Linked DNA regions of Homo sapiens: all the other regions are linked to region 2. Evidence: fine-mapped expression QTL. A gene starts in region 2. Each other region holds a variant in brackets. All regions are shown on one strand. Distances are from middle to middle.

Region 1 (5,202 bases), 69 kb before region 2:
AAAAAAAAAAAAATTAACTGGGTGTCCTGGTGCGCGCACGCCTGTGGTCCTCAGCTACTGGGAAGGCTGAGGTGGGAGGACTGCTTGAGCCCAAGGAGTTGGAGATTACAGTGAGCTATGATTGTACCACAGCACTCCAGCCTGGGCAAAACAGTGAGACCTTGTCTCTGTTTTTTTCTTTTCTTTTCTTCTTTTTTTTTTTTTTTTTAAGTTCATGTCAGAGATGCATACAGAAGTACTTATGGGTAAAATGCATGATATCTTGAAGTTGTGTTAAAATATTCTGTCAAAAAATGTGGAAGAGTTAGATGACACAATATTAATGTTAATAAATATTAATAAAATGGTTACAGCTGGATGATAGCTACGGGGGAGTTTATAACACTGTCGTTTCTACTTTTGTGCACACTTTAAAACAATAAACAATGAAAAACAGAAATGCTAAAAAACCTCACAGCTCCTCGTGCTTCCCCGCTCCTCCCCTAAACAATGAAAAACATAAATGCTAAAAACCCTCACAGCTCCTCGTGCTTCCCTGCTCCTCCCCAGCAACCATGTCTCTGTGTTGGGGTGGCTCCTTTCCCTGGGAACATCAGAAGGGTCGGGATTGGGGTTGGACCATCTGTGTGTTCCCAGTACATAGTTAGCTGCTCAGTAAACGTGGATTTGCTAAAAAGTTGAGTGGGTGTCTCAAGAATGGGGGTCCCTCCAGGCCACCATTACCAAGAGTTCCCCAATTTGAGTCACCTCTGCTCTTACGGTGGGAGCTGTCCAACCAGGGCAGGGCTGGGTGGGGTGGGCTCGGGGGCATGGCACCTCACCTGGGCAGATCTGATCCCAGGAAAACTTCTGTCAGGGGGCCAGCGTGCCTCCTCTCGGCTCTGTCCTCCTGTCCGTGGGTTTTCTCCTCTCAGGTTGCTACGCTCTCACTTTTCCTCCCTATGGAAACTTCTCAGGAAAGGACTGGGGAGGTATGACAGCCATGCCCCCAGAGGCTTCTGCCTTTAAATAAGGGACAAGGCCTGTGTGAAGGTGATGGGCTTAAATGGTGGCATCCTAGACTCTGATCAGCCCTCAGAGAAGTTTGGGAAGTGCGAGTGTTTCCTATTCACAACCAGACATGCCACTTACACGTGGTGTCCTTCCCGAATGAACGAAGAATCGGGATGGGTGCGCTGAGATGAACGACTCAAGGCAAGAACAGGGACGTCCCGTGTTCTCCAGGGATCATGGGTGGGGAGGGTACAGATTGTTCTCCAGGGATCATGGATGGCGAGGGTACAGATAGAAAGGCCATACTTCATCCCTCAGCACAACACTTCAACCTGCTTCCTGCTCCACTGGAGCCCCCAAAGGCTGCAGCCAGAATGAATGCCTGCCTCCCACAGCCCAGCCGTGCCCTCTGCTCCCTCCCTGCAGGGTGTGATGGGTGCCCCATTCCACGCTAGCAGAGGTAGCCTCTTAGCTCAGGACACCTTGTGGATTCAACCCCAATCCCCAAGGACAATCCCAGATAAAATGAGACATCCTTAGTGCTTGCCTCCAGTGCTTCCAGCCTGGCCATTCCCATTCCCCATTCCCAAACCTGGGGACATCATTCTGTCTCCCCCAACATCCAACTCTACCCTTGGAGATCGTTGGAACTCACGCAGATTAATGTGTAAATGGCAACTAAGCCTTCCTATATGGCTTCTCCCAAAGTTACTTGCATTTCATGAGGGACAAGGCCCTGAGCAGGAGGAAGCTCCCAGTGCTATCACAATCCCCCTATTGGAGGGGTCTTCAAGGTGCTCTAAACCACACCAAGTGTATTCCTCATCTATTGCTGTGTAACACATGACCACAAATCCAGCCACTTAAAGTAGCACCTGTTTATTTCTCATGCAGCTCTGTGAATCTAGTCTGGGCACAGCTCATCTGGGTTATCTGCTCGGGATCTCACCAGGCTGAAACCAAGATATCAGTCAGGGCTGCAATATCATCTAAGGTGTGGGGTCCTCCTTTGAGCTCGCTCTTGTTGGCACAATTCAATTCCTTGTAATCACAGGACTTAGGCCCTCAGTCACTAGAGGTTGCCTGCTGTCCCCTACCATGTGGCCTGCTTCATAACCTGATAGCTTGGTCCTTCAAGGCTAACGGCACAGTGTCTGTCTGGGGCTTCAGCTTCATTTATAGGGCTGACCTGATTAGCTCAGACCCACCCTGGGTGATGTTTCTTTTTATTAACTCAAAATCAACCAATTGGTAACCTAATCATTGGAGTGATGTCCCATCACATTCACTCATCCTGCCCATACTCAAGGGAAGGGGATTATATAGGATGTGTACACTAGCATGAAGGGGACTTGGGGGCCATCTGAGAATTTTGCCCACGGTACGAACTGGACACTTCCCCACTTGATCTTTACTAGGTATGACCTCATGCACCCATAAGAGACACAGATACTTGCCTCTGAGGCATTCTGTTCCTGCTCCTGTGGAAATAATGTAGCTTGGCTCATTCTCCCTGCTGAACTTTGACACATTCCCTGAGGCCTGGAATAGGGACTTGGCTTTGGCTCAGGCAGGAAAGTCCTTCCCCAAGGGGAAATGTAGAGAGGAAGGGGAACTGATCACTAAAATGTCTCCTTTTCTCTCAATTTCTGTCTGTCAGCCCTATTCAAGCACCATGAGAAACTGACAGATTTCACATTTCTTTTTTTTTTCTTTGAGATGGAGTCCCGCTCTGTCACCCAGGCTGGAGTGCAGTGGCACGATCTCGGCTCACCATAACCTCCGCCTCCTGGGTTCAAGCGATTCTCCTGCCTCAGCCTCC[T/C]GAGTAGCTGGGATTACAGGTGTGCGCCACTGTGCCTGGCTAATTTTTGTATTTTTTTAAGTAGAGACAGGGTTTTGCCATGTTTGCCAGGCTGGACTTGAACTCCTGGTGCCTTGGTGATCCGCCCACCTTGGCCTCCCAGAGTGCTGGGATTACAGGCGTGAGCCACCGTGCCCGGCCAGATTTCACATTTCTTTCCCGTCTGGCCTATTTATACCCCACCTTGGCCTCCCAAAGTGCTGGGATTACAGGCATGTGCCACTGTGCCTGGCTAACTTTTGTATTTTTTTTAGTAGAGACAGAGTTTTGCTATGTTGGCCAGGCTGGACCTGAACTCCTGGCACCTCGGTGATCCGCCCACCTTGGCCTCCCAAAGTGCTGGGATTACAGGCGTGGGCCACTGCGCCCGGCCAGATTTCACATTTCTTTCCCGTCTGGCCTATTTATACTTCTAGGAAAACCCCAGGCCCAAGAGCATCCTTTTGCAGCACGAGATGCTGTTGGCAACACAGGGAAGGTATGAAATCCATTGCTTGAGATGCTTCCAAAATGGTGATGGGGTCCATGCCCTTGGCATGGTATCATCCTGCTTGAAGGCAGAAGACCAGCTGACATAACCCTAGGAGACTCCGTGTACTACTGGGCAATGTCTATGCTTCACCCAAGCAGGAAAGAAAACCAGATTTTAAATTCTTGCATCTGTCCCATCACATCCTCTACTAGACATCAAGTCCCACGAGGGCAGATTTCACCTGCCGTGGCCACTGCTATCTCCTCCAATGCTTGGACAGTGCCCAGCACATAGTGGGCCTTCAATGAGTGTGTATTCGACAAATTAATTCCAAAGTTATATTTGTGACTCTCAAAAACCTTCCTAATCTGACTCAGCAGACGCTCTCCCGCTCCTGCCTCCTTTGTGTGTTCAGCTCACCCTACACATGCTCTTTTTACTCCCATTTCCTTCGTCCTATCTGCAGCTTTGCACCTGGCCACAGATCTCCCCAGGCTACAGCGTAACTGCTGACTCCGCTGCCGCTGGGGCACTAGCCTGTTCCCTTTCTTCCTATTTTACACTGAACCTCCAGAACAATAACCTCTGCCTCACTCCAGGAGCAAATGCCAGATACTGACCCAACCCTGCCCTAGCCTGTTCCCTTTCTTCCTATTTCACACTGAACCTCCAGAACACTAACCTCTGCCTCACTCCAGGAGCAAATGCCAGATGCTGACCCAACCCTGCCCTAGCCTGTTCCCTTTCTTCCTATTTTACACTGAACCTCCAGAACACTAACCTCTGCCTCACTCCAGGAGCAAATGCCAGATACTGACCCAACCCTGCCCTAGCCTGTTCCCTTTCTTCCTATTTTACACTGAACCTCCAGAACACTAACCTGTGCCTCACTCCAGGAGCAAAGGCCAGATGCTGACCCAACCCTGCCCTGAGCCCTGTGCTCTGGGTCCTGCTGCCTCCCATCTCAGTCAAGGGCGAGAGATGTTAAACTCATCCAAGGCCAACCAGCAAGGAAGAGGCAGATCTGGGGCTTGTCACTCAGCCCCAGGGGCCTCCTCAGCCTCCCTCCTGGCTCCTTTCTGCAACTCTCCCCAGTGCTCATGACTCAGTCTATCCTGGTTGTCCTGTCTCCCTACAACCCCTTAATCCTGTATTCTGGCCACAAAACCCCTACGTGTGCTGATTACGAGTCACATGGGTGCCACTGCCAGTCTCCACACGTTTTAATTTTCCCCGTACACTCTGGACATCATCCACGGCTTCTGTGTTGGACATCATCAGAGGAGCCCGTGATGGGTGATAATTAACAATGAATTAAGAAGGGAGCTGTGTCAGTCAGAGCCTTCCAGGTCACTGTAAACGTGCTCCCCAGGTGGATACCTTCTCAGCCCTGTCTGCCTTCCCTCTGAGGACCCAGTCCACTCTCTTAACTTCTACTTTGATGGGCCAGTGAGCAAGTGGCAAGTAAGGGGAATGGCCAGCCCCAGATCCCAGCTGATTGGACTTGGATGAATTTAACATCTTTGACTCTCAGTTTTCATATCTATTAAGTGGGGTTTATCCTGCTGACCCTGTATCTTCTTGTGAGGATTAAATTATTTCATGGAGCACCCAGCAGAGAGCAGGAGCTTCATAAGTGGTAGCTGCTTAATGGTGACAGTGACAATGATGGGAATGACTCTCAAGCCTCCATACCTAGCCTTGATCCTAGACCCACATTTCCAGCAGCCTGTGTATCCTCTGTCCATCTAGGCTATGCCACTGTTTTCCCTACCTCACCCAAACCAGCTCTTGTTGACTTCCTTATTGGCCTGACAAGCACCCAGCCTGGGAAACTTGCCTTGTCCTGGGGTTTTCGTTTGCCCTGTCCACTGTG
Region 2 (5,202 bases):
GTGGTTTTGATCAACGTGCTCTGTGAGCTACCCTGCCCTAACCCAACTTCTCTAACTCTACCACAGATGGTAAAAGAAAATGAGTTTTGAAGGAATACAGCAAATATTCACAAGTATCTCCCAGACTTAATGCACCTGGATGAAGATGAGATTCTCAGCTCTACTTCCCCCTCCCCATTCCCTTATGCATCACCATTGTCAAGGTCAGGTGCTGACCAGGGACAATTTCCCTTGAACTGTTCTTTGTTTAGTTCTCCATCACTTGCCTAATCAGAGAAAAGAAGCAGACATGGCCACAGCCTTTCCAGTACAGAGGAGAGAACATCCCAGACACTTTCATATCTTCTTCCCATATTCCTAGTTCATGGACCTCCTGAGTGAAGAAAGAGCTTGAAGTTCTAGGAACTGAGAGGTTAACATTTCTCTCAGGACCCAAGGCAAGATTTCAGTGATCACCAGATAACCGGGAAAAAAGGGTTTGCAGTTGCTGGCCTTAACAGGGAGATTTAAACAGGCATGGCATCTGAATACCAACTCCATCTGCCAACTGTCCCCCATGTCATTGCTCCCTTTCAACAACGGCCAAACACCCTGTATGAAAAACCCTCCTTGAGTTGGAGGAAAAAGCTGTAACCAGACTGAGTCCTCAAGCCATGCCTGAGTCCTCCATTGGTTTGATGGGATGTTCCCTTGCACCTCTTCGGCTCTGCGGGAATTCAGAGGAAGGGTGTCCAATCAGGTCAGAGAAGAGAAAGCTTCCCTAAATGAGCCACTCCTAGCTGTGGCTCCCACTTCACCAGCTAAAGAGCCACATTTTCTCTTCCTCTGCCTCCAGCTCCCTTGGTTTCCCACATCACTCCTGCTTTTCAGGTTTGTCCCCGGCCTCCTGGATTCCCCTCTACCCCAGTCCTACTCTTCCTGGGCCCCAGCCTTTTTAAAGCTCTTCACATGCCTCTTTCCAAGCCTTCAGCTTTTCTCACATCTCAGTCTCCATGCAAATACTTTTACTACCCAAACTTCCTTCCAAATTTTTTCTCACTTAAAAAGATTCCTTCAATGGTTCTCTTTTCTACAGTTTAATCTTCACTCGAACTTCAACCCAGCCTAACCCCGTTTAAATGCTGTCAGTTCCCAGTATCACCAATCGCTTAACACCCACCTCCTTCCTCCTTTGCTCCTACTAATGGTCTGGTTACTCCTTTTTGCTCCAGCATTCCCCAAAACCTTCTCAAGCAGGGATATCGTTCCCTCATTTACCCAAAATCTCCTTTGCACACTTCTGGCGCCTTCAGGCCACATCACTCCGGTCCTTTAGACTCCTACGCACCCAACGTCCCCGTCTCTCCCTCACACCCACTTGCTTCCCTTGCTCCCACCACAACAGTGCCCATCTCCTCTCCCCGCTCACTCAGGTCTCCTGCTCAGGACGCCCTTGCCGAGGGCGGAGGGGGATTTGTGCTGAAGGAGGGCTCCGGCAGCAGCGCAGCAACTCGGGGGACGCTCCTTCTCCTTGTCAGTCACGGCCCCTTGTGTCCCCAGATGCTTGTGGGGCGACTGGGGTGTGTGAGCCCTGCTGCCAGGGCCCCGCTGGGGCTGCTCCAGGAGCTGTCCGTGGTGCTGACGCGGCGGCCGATCGGGCGCGGGATGCGGCGCGGCTGCTGAGCGCTGTCCCTGGTCCTGGAGAGGTTCCTGGGCCCTGGCGGCGGCGGCAGGAGCGGTGGCCGGAGCGGCCGGCAGCGGGGCCGATGACGGGGGGACGAGCCCGGGCGGAGGCTGGGCTTGCAGCAGCTGCTGGTGCTCCCACAGGCTGCGGTTCTCAGCGCTCAGCTCGTCCAGCCGCCGCTCCAGCTCGTCGATACGCTCTCGCTGGGTGTGGATGAGGCTCTGCTGGTTCTGCACGATGGCCGTGAGCTCCTTGAGGTAGAGCACGGCGCGCACCGGATTCTCCAGCAGGCTCTCCATGCCGCCCGCCGCCGCCTGCGCCCTGCCTGCGCCTGGGCTGGCGGCGGGGAGCGCGAGGGCGCGGGAGCCCAGCAGCCCAGCGGTCGGCTCGCCTCCCTCTCCCACCGGCCCAGCCTCCCTCCCCCCGCCGGCGCCGCGTCACTGCCACCCCGACCTTCACACACGCATCGCGGGGCGGGGCGGCTGCGCAAGGCCCCACCCCCACCCCACCCCCTACCTCCAGACCTCCCCAACTCCTCGCCTCCCCACCTCGCTGCCTCTTGGCGTCAGCGAAGGCTCTGCTGCCTGCAGGGCAGAGAGGAGAGGGAGGAGGCCAGCGAGAGGGAGCCTCTGTCGGGGCGTGGGAGGAAAGCAAGATAACGCAGGCGACCCGAGAAGGACGGTGAATCTGACTGGCCAGACTGGGAAGTAGGCGAAGGGGAAGCAGCGATACTGGGAAGGTGCGGTGGGACCTGTAGGAGAAGAGAAACAGAAAAGAAAGGAAGAGAAGGGGAGAGGCCAGCAGAGAGGAAGCAGAAAAAGGGAAGGTGGGGCCAAGAAAGAGAAATGTGCTGGAGGACAGGAAGGCGTGGGGCCCTGAAGGGACGCGAATTCTTTTTTCCCAGGTCCAGGCCTTCCAGAGGCTGGGGTTCATCTAGAGACCTGCTGAGGAGGGGCCACACTCGCCTCTTTTGCTCGCAGCAATCTATTCTGCCAGGGGATTCCCTGGAACACAAGAATCCTGGGGCTCTAAGGGACCCTAAAGAGCGTCTGGTCCTGCTCCTTCCTTCATCCGTGACGAAACTTGGGATGGGAAGGCTGTTCATGCTGGGTTTCCTCTGGGAGTGAGACCTCAAGACAACTGTGGCAGTTCCTGATAGAAACACTAAATAAACGAGGTCCTCTGTGGCAAGGGCTAACGCTTCCAGAAGCTTCTGAATAGATCATTCTATTTGACAAACAGTTATAAAATGCACACTATTACCAAACACTGTGCTAGATGGTGGTAAGAGAAGCATGACTAGAATGGAATGTTAGGCTTTTTGAAGCTTATAAATAAGTGGGTGAAATTGGTCATGATTAACTTTGACGTATGATAGTGGTGGTGAGTAATCAGGCAGAGGTTTGCCCAGAGTGCTATAGGAGCCAGCAGCTTGGAGATCCAGGGAGGCTTCTTACAGGAAGTGACCCTTGGTGTGGGAAGGGTTTTCCATAAAGGGAAGACAGCATGAGCAAAAGCTCAGAGACATTAATCAGCACCGATTGAATCATTCATTCATGTCTACAATAATCACCACTCACTAGGTGCAAAGTAATGTACAGAATCTATGCAAGCCACATCTAGCATAGATAATAAGTTATCATTTCTATAATCAAGTTGATTCCAATCTCATAGAGTAGATATGCCATGCACATGAATAAGTAAAACACAACTCAAGATTTCTGTAAGAGCTCTTCAAGCCAAGTGCCATAGAGTTCAGGGGAGGGAGAGGATTCATTTGACTGTGTTGATCTGATAAGTTCTGACAGAGGTGTTACTCAAGTTGGGCCACGAAGAATGGGAAATATTTCAACAGGTAGACAGAACAGGGGGCCAGATATGAGAAAGATACATCAGGCAGCAGGGAAAAAACTAATGAATGGAAATAGAGCACTTGGTTTAAATTAATTTGGCAGGGAAATATCCCTTTCCTTTTCTTTTCCTTTACTTTTTTTTTTTTTTAAAGTCTTGTCTGTCACCGAGGCTGGAGTGCAGTGGCAGGATCATAGCTTACTCCATCCTTGACCTCCTGGGATCAAGGAATCCTCTAGCCTCAGCTTCCTGAGTAGGTGGGACTACAGATGCATACCACCATGCCCCGTGAAGGAAATGAGTTGTTCTTTCCTCTTTTATAGGAATGGGATGGGAAGGAGGAAGGGCTATGAGTACGCTTCGCATGTTTGTTATTGTGTTGTTCCGTTCTTCACACACATGTCCATCAGGCTCCCTGTCAACCTTCCATTCCCCCAGGGTAGGCATATTTATGGGTACCATGTGCCCAGTGAGCTGGCCCACCCCCCACCACCACGTGGTGCCAGACTTGAATGACCTTATGAGAAGGAACTTGTGCTCTGCACATATATTGGTTTATCTGCATTCCTGATGTGTTTTTATTTTGCTTTTCTCCCATTTATCTTCCTAGCAAACTTTCTTTGGTAAAGAATGAATAAAGGAAGCTTATCCACAGCTGAGCTCACGGTTAGGGGAAACAGCACACAGGAGGATGCTTTGGTAGTGACCAGCATTCCAGCTAAAGAATGGAGGTTGGGGGATGAAACAAGGGCACACAAAAACTCAAACTCTTTTTTCTGAATTTTCTTTGTTTGCCTAGTTGATTTGCTGTCCAAGAATTGGGTGCTTGGACAGCAAATTAGAGACGAATACGATAAGTGAAACAGCCTGCAGCATAATTATCCATGCGGATTGTTGAAAATGCAGATTTCTGAGCCCTATATTGTAGCAGGACAAGCCGCAGACAAAATTCCTCAGACACCGAGTTAAAGAAGGAAGGGGTTTATTTGGCTGGGGGCATCGGCAAGACTCCTGTCTCAAGAGCTGAGCTCCCCGAGTGAGCAATTTCTGTCCTTTTTAAGGGTTCACAACTCTAAGGGGGTGCGCGTGAGAGGGTCGTGGTCGATTAAGCAAGCAGGGGGTACGTGACTGGGGGCTGCATGCACCGGTAATTAGATCGGAACACAACAGGATAGGGATTTTTCACAGTGCTTTTCTATACAATGTCTGTAATCTATAGATAACATAACCGATTAGGTCAGGGGTCGATCTTTAACTACCAGGCCCAGGGTGTGGCGCCGGGCTGTCTGCTTGTGGATTTCATTTCTGCCTTTTAGTTTTTAGTTTTTCTTTCTTTGGAGGCAGAAAATGGGCATAAGGCAATATGAGGGGTGGTCTCCTCCCATAATACCAGTCCTGCTGTATTGGAATCACTAGGAATGGGGACCAAGAATTTTTATTTTAAAAACTTTTTTCATTAAAAAAATCAACTTTGTTGACTTATAATTTATATCCAATGATATGCTCCCATTTTATGTGCACAGTTCAATGAATTTTGACAAATGTTCATGCCCTATTTTAGTCAGTTCCTCTCATCCTCAGCTCCAGTTAACCACTGACTTGCTGTCTGCCAGTATATGTTAGTTTTGTCTGTTGTGGAATTTCACATAAAAATCATACAGTATACACTACTTCGTGTCTTTCTTTTT
Region 3 (5,140 bases), 76 kb before region 2:
TGGGTGATTTATATCCTTTTATTCGGCAAACAGCTTTGTACAGAATGAATACCGCTTGCTGAATGTCACCAGGCGGGGGCAGGGGAGCCGTATAGAATCCCAGTGAAGCCTTCCAGGCCTGGGCAAAATGGCACCTGGCGACTCGGTTAGTGTGTGTGTTTTCTCCGGCGGGAGTAAGGAAGACACAGTCAGAGTGGAAGGGAAATGCAAAGACTCCAGCGCCCCCCTCCCCTGCTAGTGCCTGCCACTTTCTGCTTCTCCATCTTCTCCTGCCCTTTGCAGGACAGGGCCCTCTCCACCTCGGAGAGAAGCAAGGCAGTCAGTGACCTATGGACTTCAGGGAGGGGCTCCTTTCTGTGGCGCTGAGTCAGCATGCCAGGCCTGCAGGGCTACACAATCAAGCATGAGGGATTGCGGCTTTCACCAGGGCATATCAGGGCTTAGCTCTGCACTCAACCTTGCCCAAGCCAGGGTTCCGGCTGGAGGCCCCTTGCTCTTCTCACTCTCTTTCCATGCTCCTGCTTCTCACCTCTCCCCATCCACACCTGGGTCTGTACGTTCCCTGAGACTGTGAGCCATGCCTCTTCACACACACACACACACACACACACACACACACACACACACGGGTGCCCAGCGTGGCCCCATTCTCAACACACAATAAATAAGTGCTCGATGTTTGTTGAATGAATAACAAATGGCCAACTCATTCCCCCATGAACCCTGGCACCCCAGCACTGCCCTGCATGAACCCTGGCACCCCAGCACTGCCCTGCATGAACGCTGGCACCCCAGCACTGCCCTGCATGAACGCTGGCACCCCAGCACTGCCCTGCATGAACTCTGGCACCCCAGCACTGCCCTGCATGAACTCTGGCACCCCAGCACGGCCCTGGGGCCTGTGGGCTGCTCTGGCAGGATGACAAATCATGCCCCAGTGTTTAGGGCAGTGCTACCAATGCACTAAGAGATGGGAAAGGTGGTAGATTCTCAGGACTTGGAGAAACTTTTGCAATCACATCGCCCAGCCCTCTCATTTTACAGATGAGGACACCGAGGCCCAGAGAGGTGTCCTGCCAAAGCCACACAGCACAGAGGAGCAGAGCCCGGGTCCAGCTATTTCTCCTATCTCACCACGCTGCCTCTTCTCACTGGAAGAGTGTACCAACGCGGGAGTCTGGCCCCTACCCATCCCAAGCCTGATCCCTACCTAAGGTTAGCCCAGCCCCCAGCCCCCAGCCCAGCTCCCCTCCTCAGCACAGGCTTGCAGCCACTGCTCCAAGCCTCCAGCCCACAGCCCATACACGCAGCCTCCCAGGGAAGAGGGCAATTAGTTTCCATTGTGCGACTCAGCACCACCTGGGCTGCAGGAAAACGCTGTGTTCCCAGCACTCCAGATCAATGTGGGCCTTGCAGGTTAGAATTTAGGGCGCAGGCCACATGGAGACTGGGAAAGACAGAAGAAAACAGACAACAGTCAGGGCCTGTGGGTGAAGCAGAGTCACTCCTGCCCCCAGAGCAGAGAGACAGCAGGGGTGCCTGGGGCTACGGGGCCAGCACCTCACCCTGGCTTGGGAAGGGATGGACTGGGACAACAGTGCAGGAAAGCCAGAGAGATGAGCCAACTAGGGGACACAGAAAAGGAAGGGCGTGAGGAAATGCCATCTCTCCCCTTCTGCAACCTAGATGTATCCTGGATCCCAGTAGCACCTCCATGGGCCCCCACAGCAGTGCTGGGGAAGGGAAGGGAAGCCGGAGGGAGAAGAGAAAGGAGGTGAGAGGGAGGCGCTGCCTAGCATTGTCTCTCTTTCCTCTTTGAGGTCCACAGAGCGTCTCCACCAGCAGCTCCAGGAGGGATGATAAATTGTCAAAAGCCACCAAGAGTCAGGGACAGGAACTCAGTTCTGCCCAGCTGAGGGCTGTGCAGGGATTTCAAGGTACCTGTGCGAACCCCAGCCCTCACTCATTGAACTCAGTCAGAAAACCACCGCGTCAGTGGATTTAGAAATGTGACAGGGATTTCAGAGGGCAATGGGTCCAGCCCTCACAACCCAGCACCACTCTGCAGGCATGGAAACGCAGGCCCAGAGGACAGGGGCTTCTCAATATGGGCACACAGCACCAAGACAGCTCCATAAATAGAAGTGAAATATCCAAGCTCCCACTCCAGGGAAGCTGACCACTGGGTGGATGACTCCCCCAGCGTCCAAACCCTCTCTGGCAGTCCCTTGCTGCTCCAGGAGCGAGGATGAAAGGGAGAGCTCTTCCCAGGGCCTCCGGGGAGACACTTCTGCTGACTGTCCCCAAGGAGAAAGAGGGGAGAGAAATGAGGGAGGGTCCCTGAAGAATGGAGACCTTCAAGAAGGAGGCCAACCTCGGGGACCAGTGGAAGCCAGAAAGAGCACGGGGGCATGGCAGGGGCTGAAGCCGATGTCCCAGGGAAGGAGTAGCTGCAAGGCCCCTCAGCCTCAGAGGAGCGCCAGCCCCGCCCTGCCATTCTGGACAAGGCATGAGTGTGAAGAGACTCTTGCCTGTCCACACTATCAAGGCTGAGCGGGGGCAAAGGCAGCCCCCTGGGGGTCCCCACCCTGCTACTGGACTTTAAAACCATTTTCTTTGGTTTTAAAGAAAC[A/G]ATTTTTCTTTGGTCATGATTTTGTTGGTAGATTTATCTTTATGGAATTGTAGTATTTTCTTGCTCTAAAACCCTCAGTTTAACCCCTTCTTTTTTCTGTCTCACATTTTTGCCTCCAGCGATATGAAAATGAACCTTGGAGAATGGGAGGGTCCTGGGGGAGGGGGGCTGAGGGGCTCTTCACCAGGCAGAGATGAACCCCAGTGCTGACACAAGCCCTTTCCTTTTCCTGGTTTCTCTTGCCCTGGAGAGTGACAGGCAGAAAGGGCTTTTTGTCTCTTTGGACCATTTCTGTATCCCTGCTGCCTCAAACGAAGCCTGGCCTGGGGCGAACTCAATCAATGACTCTGACGGGAGACAGGGCTCCGGCCCACTGGGGTGATGGGCTAAAGAGGGGATTCTGGTTCCTGTGGACAATCTGGAAGCTGGAAGCTGTTAGAACTGGAGCGAGGATTTCACCAAGGAGCTCACAGAGAGAGCCCGGGCAGGTGGGGTGTGGGAAGGAGTGGGGAAAGCCCGGAGTGTGGGGTACTCACTCCAGCACGTCGCGGTTGAACTGCTTCTTGCTGTTGCCCAGGAACTCTCCAATCATCTGGCGGCTGAGGCCCTTTCGCTGGAGGAGGAAATGGGCCACACCGATGGGGGTGTCCGGGATGAAGCCGCGTGAGATCAGGAACTGGATGCCCTTGTCGGGGTTTCTGGAGGTGGGGGTGGGGAGAAGCAGTAGAGAGTGAGCTGAAGCCATCCATGACTCTTTCCTCCCTGTCTTCCACCCATAGAAGTACCCAGAGGTTCTTGGAAATCCAGTTCCCCATTGAAGCTTCTCTCACCAGAGCCTCAACCCACTGAATGTCCTCACGCAGAGGATGGTGTGTGACCAGAAGGAGGACAGGGGAGATCTGCAAACAAAGTGAATTCCAGAGCAGATGGAGGAGAAGTACCCTTCTCTGTCCCTGCCTCCTGGGTCTTACCCCAGTCCTGCCCTTCCCCCTACCCATATCCTGTTGTCAATATGCAGGTCCCCACCGCAGACGCCCCAACCCTGGAGAGAGGGTGGGAGAAACAGAGGTGAGACCTCCGCCACACCACCTCTTCCCTTTGCAAGCTTTGAAGCCATGCTGCTCCCTGAGCTGTTCCTCACAGGTCCGGGAGGAGATAAGTACAGAAACACAAGGTAAGCACTGAGAACCTCCCATAGCATTTCGACATTTTCCGGGACAGCCAGGCATGTGATTGTCTTTCTAGCACCTCATTTTTATTGTATTTTACAAAAGTATTAGCCCACAATGTATTTTCAGAAGGGTGTGGGGGAACAAAACTGGTTCTTCACTATGGATAGTTTAAGAATTCCTGTCTTGGGGCAGATGAGTGTCTGTATGAGTTTTCATGTGCATGCAGAAGAGACACTGCAGAAGTGGGAGTGGTTCAGAGTCAGATCCGCCTTTCCCTAGGTCTGCCGAGTACTAGCTATTTCATCGTGTGCATTTCGCCTTACTGGTGTGAGCCGGCTTCTTTTCTGTAAAACAGCATGGTAATACCTCTGTGTAGATACTGCTGGAAGATTACAGATGCTTTATGTAAGGTGAGCTATGAACAGTAGCTACTTCCCCTAGAATAGGAGCCTCTTGAGGCCAGGGGATGTGTCCTTCTCACCTCTGTGGTCACAGTGCCTGGCACCCAATAAATAACAGCCGAATGAACGAATGAACACGCATTAGGGCCGGGGAGATGTGCTCTTGGCGCAGGGTTATGAAGGGGCGAGTGGAGGATGGAGGCGAGTGCCTGCCTCCTGGACCTGACATTTCCATGGGAGGGGCAGGTGTGCTTCCTTTCCTCTGCTTGGGACTGGCTGTATACATTCGGTGCAGGACCAGTCCCGGTCTCGCTGGGGTCTCTGAGCTATGGCGGTCGGTCATTTCTCCCCTGTTCTCTTTCTCCTGTGCCTCTGCCTGCTTCACACTCTCTCTTCCTCGTAGCCCTCCCCTCTCCTGCTCTCAGCCGGCATTCTTTACGAGGCGCCTCTCCTCCCTCCCCCACCCAGCCTCGCATTTCACCAACCCTGGGAGCTAATGCGTTTTCCCTGGCTTCATATCCACCCGAATGATTGCTGCGTAATCCTCAAACGGCCTGGACTGTTATTTACTTAATACTGTCTTTTCTTTTACATTCTCTTACTTTTCAAACCCTAGCTTCATCTTAAGCTGTAACAGTTGTGAAAGCATGTGTCTGATGTGTTATTTTTTTCCTTTAATCTTTCTTAAAATAAACTCAGGATGATTAAAATAAAATATGTACTTCCTAAACATGACCTCAGGGATCAGGCACGGCACAGATGCGCCTGCCTGGAGGACCCTGGCATGACGTGGGAAGTTACCTGGCGCCCTGCTTGGTGGAGGGAAGGTGCCCTCCTCCTTCCCTCCCTCCCAGGACGCCCAGGACTCCGGGCTGGGGGCCGGGGCTGACTTACATGTTGAAGAGGTTGAGGCCGATGCGGTAGAGCCGCTTGCG
Region 4 (5,202 bases), 97 kb before region 2:
AGCAAGCCTCACTTTAATTGTGAAGAAACATGGGAACCGGTGCTCCCACCCGGGCTGTGGGAGTGTGGTGCGGTGGGGCCTGGACACGGGGAGGGTCCGAAGTGGGGCCAGCTCCCTGGAGTCAGGCATGTCTGTCTCAAGCTGCCCCTGTCCCTTGCTGAATGGGAACCCCCACCAGCTGCCTCGGGAGCCCGTGTCCTTACACTCTATTCGGATCTGCTCCAGCTCCGTCACCTCAGCAATGGACTCCTTCAGGTCCTCCACGAACTTCTGCATCTCGTCCGAGCCCAGGGCACAGAAATGCAGCACCTGCTTCTTCTCGGAGCCCGAGAGCGGGGTCACCAGTGTGATGCCATGAGAGTAATCTGGAAAGCAGACCCCAGGCCCCCAGTGGGCTGTGAGCAGCAGCAGCCGAGGGCCAGAGCCAGCCAGACATGAGGAGGGCACGGGGTCTCATGCCTCCACCCACTCTGCTGTCCAGCCCTTCTCCCTCAACTCGCCCCAGCCATTTCATCCATTCATTCCTTCTCAAAGACTTACACTGGCTGTCAAAGACTTACACTCGTTCTCAAAGAGCTGGAACTGCATGCCCAGCAGGCCAACTGACTTGCAAAAGGTGTACGTGGAGGAGCTCTTCTTCTTCGGGCAAAGTTTGAGAATCTGTTCAGGAGAGGGAAACAGGCATGCCCTGATGAACAGACACTCACGGACACATGGATGCACAAACACCCGGGGGATGCACGATCACACAAACCCACGCAGTGATGAATGTGCACATACAGGTACAGATATACATATATGTGCACACACTATCCCAAAATGTGCTTCTTCACTGCACAAAACCCTACAGTGGTTATTCCCTCTGTACTTAGAAGCCAAGCCACGGCGCCTGAGCTGGCCTGTAAAACCCACCTGATGTGGTCCTTGCCTTACTCTGGCCTTCTGCCCAAGTGTCCTCCCTGCTGTAGCTTGAGAAGGGCAAGCTCAGTTCCACTGTGGGCCCCTCGCATACACTGTTCCCACTCCACAGCTCTCCCGGCAGCTTTTTGCACGGCTGCATTACTCTCATTACTTAAGTCTCAAATGCTACCTCCTTAGAGATGCCTTCCTGGATCACCTCCTCTAAAAAACAAACCAAAGCAAGCCCAAACCTGGCCCTTAACTCCAGTCACTCTCTGTACTATCACCTGGTTTGTGGCCTTCATAGTGCCTTCCCCCAATCTGATATTATCTTGTTTGTCTGTTTCTTAATTATTTTCTATCTCCCTCCCCTACTAAAATGAAAGCTCGTTTTAGTAAAGTCATCTGGTTGCTTAATAAACAAATTTCTATTCAGCAGCTTCTGTGAGCTGAGCCCTGGAGATACAGGAGAACTCAGGACAGAGCCCCTGCCCTTAAGGTGCTTATGGAATGTGGAGTGTCACAGTGTCCATCAGGTGATCAAACAATAAAGCATAACAGCAAAAAAACAAAACCAAAGTGCTACGTGTTTTGAAGAAAATGAAACAGGGTAAGGAATCAAAAGTGATTTGAGACTTGAATGAAAAGGAGGAGGCCAGGAAGGCAAGAGGAGAGTGCAAGGTCTGGAGGAGCTTTGCAAGAAGGAGCAGCAAGTACAAAGGCCTGGCCCACAGGAGGGAGGCGCCTCCCAGGGCTGAGGAGAGGGCGGGGAGGCAGGTTAGGGAAAGGGGACACGTGGCCTGATGTGCACTCCAGAGAGATCACGCTGCTGCTCTCAGGGGGGTGGGGAGAGCCGTGTGGAGGCTGATGTGGTTCACTGAATGTACCAGGCGTGCACTAAGACTGTAGTAGTGGAGGTGGTGAGAGGTGGTTCAGGCTTGTGATCACTTTGGAGGCAGTGCCAACGTGGCTCATGGATAGAGAGGGCCGGTGCGAGGGAGACACAAGCCCTGCTCCAGTCCTGCTCACCAGTTTTCCAGACCTACAATGATGCCTGGCACATGGTCAACGCTGATCAAATATTTGTTGAATGGATACTTCTTTTCAAAGAGCAAAAAAAGTATCTGTGGGTACAGATGTGTGTATGTGTGTGCACGCACACACACACACCAGCCTCGCCTAGGCCCAGGGACAGAGCATGCTCCGCCTAGGCCCTGCTCCTCCCAGGCCCTGGGGTCTGAGGCACAGCCCTGTGCACTCCCTGTCCTGGGCTTCCTGTAACGTGGAGAGGCCAGTGGTCTGGGAACTAGTTCGTTAACAGTTTGTGCAACCACGAGCAGATCATCTGACGTCTCGGTGTCATGACTTATGAGGTAGGAATTAGCATGTCTGCCTGAGCCCCCTCACGCCCACGGTGTGAAAGCACCATGAAGGCAGATCCGTCCCACGGAACAGGCATTCTGTCTGAAAGCTCTGGGCGTCCTTTCCTGCCCACTTCAGGGACCCTGCCCAGGCTGACCAGGGCGGCAGAGGCAGCCCCAGCCCAGCCCAGTCCCGGAGCGGAGGCCACTCACCACCAGCAGGTCATTGAAGAGGAACACCTCCCTCTGATGCGCTGCCTGCTTCTGCAGCTTGTTCACATCCGTCACCTCGAAGAGCCGGCTGCAGCACACCAGGCGGCGGTGGGGCACGGACAGCACCTGCACGCGGGCAGGGCGCTCAGCGGGAGAGACCAGAGGCCTGGAGGCCTCCCCACCCACGCGCCCATTTTCCAGAAGAGGAGACAGCCCGGGAGAGGGGAGGGGCCCGGTTCTGTGGAGGGAGGAGAGGGGAGGGGTCCGGTTCTGTGGAGGGAGGAGAGGGGAGGGGTCCGGTTCTGTGGAGGGAGGGGAGGGGAGGGGTCCGGTTCTGTGGAGGGAGGGGAGGGGAGGGGTCCGGTTCTGTGGAGGGAGGGGAGGGGAGGGGTCCGGTTCTGTGGAGGGGGAGGGGAGGGCTCCGGTTCTGTGGAGGGAGGAGAGGGGAGGGGTTCGGTTTTGTGGAGAGGGAGGGGAGGGGCTCCGGTTCTGTCCTGGGGCCTGGACTTGACTCTCATCCTTCTCTCTCCTCGTCTGAGGCTCTTTCCCTCGCACG[T/C]TCACCCCCTGTCCCAGGGCTCATCCCTGTCATGCTTCTTGGGGAGCACGGCCAGAGAAGGGGCCCACTGAGCCACAGTAAATGAGGGGATAGAGGGACAGGAATAGGAAATTGAGAAGAGCTTGCAGGCTGTTCCAGTCCAGCCACTGTCAACCTGCTTCCCTCCGTAACCTTGAGGGCATCCCCTGCCCCAGGCTGCGGCCTGCAGATATGACACCTCCACCCTTTCTATACTGCAGAGATGCAGGTGTGCGAGAGCGAAGGGATCACAGAGACACCTGGCATCTACTCCAGCGTGTAAGACAAACCAGTCGCTTGCAACCCGACAGATGCTGAGACCTCAGCAATAAAGGCTCTCAAAGCAGAAAAGCCTGTCCCTGCACAGACTGGGAGGAGGGAGCCCAGTGCAGGGCCTCAGAAGAGATCTCCAAACTCTCCCACACCGTCCCCTGAGGCAAGAATATGAGGAGGAGGAACTGGAACCCCCATGACATCCTTTATAGTATAAAGTGTAGTAGCCTACAGAGAAGTCCCACTTTAAAAATCATGGCAGGCTTGGAACATGCTGCCTGGGACACAGGTCACTACCAATAGGACAAATCTATGGTGATGCCACAGCCTGGAGCCTATTGAGCCCATTTCCTGCCTTCCACTCATCAGGACCATCCAGGAATGCCTGGTAGTCATGCTGTCCTAGGAAAGGGATACTAAATCTCATCTGGCCACCCAGATGCTTCCACCCTAGACCACTGGGCAGTCCTTCCTGACATCTCATCTCCGTCTCTCCTGCTGCAGTATCGGGTGGCAAGAGGCAATGAGGAAATCAGGCAAGAAAAAAAAAAAGAGATGCAGTGTCTGGCACACAGTAGGTACTTCATAACTATCATGTGAATGAATATGAAAAAAGAGTTTTGGAAAGGTAAGAAGGAGAATGGGAAGAGATGCCAGGAAGAAAGAAAGGAAAGGAGACGGGAGATAGGTAGCTTGTGGACACTCACTGTCTTCATGCCCACAATGGACTTCTCCACCTTGGTGACGTACGTGACGTGGTCCTCATTGGACTTGAGCTCCTTCTGCTGTATCCTCTCATAGATGCCTACCACCAGCTCCCTGGGGATGTCAGCGCCATCGTCCACACCTAACAACGTGGAGTGGGCAGGGGTGGTGGTGGGGTTGGGAGGGAGGGTGTCAGAGCCCTGGAGCCAGACAGAAGAGACCCCCATCCAGCCTGGAGCTCCCGGGGGGTGGCCTTGGTTCTTGCCATGCCTTCAATGGCTGGTGCCTCATACCCATTCAATTAAGAACAAGTTCCTTAGCCAGGCACCAAAACTAATGATATGGCCCCAACACACATCTCCTGCCTCACCTCCTGATGTTCCCCAACCAGAGTCTTCACGCCCACCTCCCAGGCCTCTTTCCTGATGGCAGATACAGCCTCCATGTTCCTGCTAACCCTGTGCGCCTCTGCAGTTCTGTCGTCTTCCTTGTGTTCGTCTCACCCCCCAGCTCCACCCCACCACTCCAGCATCATAAGGAGCTTCTGTTTCGTTCTCTTTTGGATCTTCCTCCTGCTGGGCTCTCCTCTCCCCTCCAGTAGGGAGCATGGCATTGAGGGCTTAGTCTTTGAAGAGATTCCTCCCTCACTGGGAGCAGTGGGGGAGCAGGCAGACCCCTGGCAATGCAGGCGAGGACACCCCTGTCCCACCTCCTGCTTCATAGTAATGATAAAACTCGGGCAACAAAAAAACACTGGCAGGAAATATGCCAACAAGAAAACACGTTTCTTTTGGAGAAACAGGCGATTAAAATATCTTCTTTCTACTATTTCCAAATCTTTCTTTAATGACTATACGCTTCTTTTATAAGAGGGAAAAATTAAAAATAAAACAACTTTGGCAAGCATCTCTCAAAGGAGTGTTCCCAGCTACTGAAAGGACACCCCGCCTTCCACACGCAGCTCCCGGCCTGCTCTGGTCTCTTCCACGTCTGATCTTGGTTCTCGAAGTCAGGCAAATGAGCCATGCAGCAGCCAAGGAGGCTGAAAGAAATCAGGCGGCGGGTGAGAAAAACCAAGGAGAAAGGCTGAGTGTATGGATGCCCCCAGTTCAAGGTGGCAGGCTGCATGCCTCTGCTGCTTCTGAATACTCGGGAGAAAGGAATCTTTTAGAAAAG

Evidence for each region. PIP is the estimated chance that this variant, and not a neighbour inherited with it, causes the effect.
Region 1: its variant is fine-mapped to the expression of IQSEC3 in subcutaneous fat (TwinsUK, PIP 0.95).
Region 3: its variant is fine-mapped to the expression of IQSEC3 in whole blood (INTERVAL, PIP above 0.99).
Region 4: its variant is fine-mapped to the expression of IQSEC3 in testis (GTEx, PIP 0.95).

The regions. Positions count from the first base shown.
Region 1 is chr12:132,637-137,838 of GRCh38, reverse strand. The region is part of intron 3 of IQSEC3 (IQ motif and Sec7 domain ArfGEF 3); the gene reads right to left. It overlaps IQSEC3-AS3 (IQSEC3 antisense RNA 3), which reads left to right. Exons shown (of 10, transcript NR_033859.2): 10 at 212-428. Among named protein-coding and RNA genes, the nearest start is that of IQSEC3-AS3, 14 kb to the left of the region's middle. The variant T/C (reference allele first, on the strand shown) is at 2,816.
Region 2 is chr12:63,643-68,844 of GRCh38, reverse strand. It overlaps IQSEC3 (IQ motif and Sec7 domain ArfGEF 3), which reads right to left and starts at 2,078. Exons shown (of 14, transcript NM_001170738.2): 1 at 1,409-2,078. The coding sequence starts at 1,962.
Region 3 is chr12:139,314-144,453 of GRCh38, reverse strand. It overlaps IQSEC3 (IQ motif and Sec7 domain ArfGEF 3), which reads right to left. Exons shown (of 14, transcript NM_001170738.2): 4 at 5,100-5,140; 5 at 3,169-3,330. It overlaps IQSEC3-AS3 (IQSEC3 antisense RNA 3), which reads left to right. Exons shown (of 10, transcript NR_033859.2): 2 at 1-145; 3 at 1,045-1,215; 4 at 1,821-3,120; 5 at 3,210-3,542; 6 at 3,651-3,806; 7 at 4,084-4,214. Among named protein-coding and RNA genes, the nearest start is that of IQSEC3-AS3, 7.3 kb to the left of the region's middle. The variant A/G (reference allele first, on the strand shown) is at 2,633.
Region 4 is chr12:160,892-166,093 of GRCh38, reverse strand. IQSEC3 (IQ motif and Sec7 domain ArfGEF 3) reads right to left here. Exons shown (of 14, transcript NM_001170738.2): 8 at 4,029-4,168; 9 at 2,475-2,600; 10 at 561-660; 11 at 204-365. IQSEC3-AS1 (IQSEC3 antisense RNA 1) reads left to right here. Exons shown (of 3, transcript NR_183431.1): 2 at 1-782; 3 at 1,337-1,474. Among named protein-coding and RNA genes, the nearest start is that of IQSEC3-AS3, 14 kb to the right of the region's middle. The variant T/C (reference allele first, on the strand shown) is at 3,031.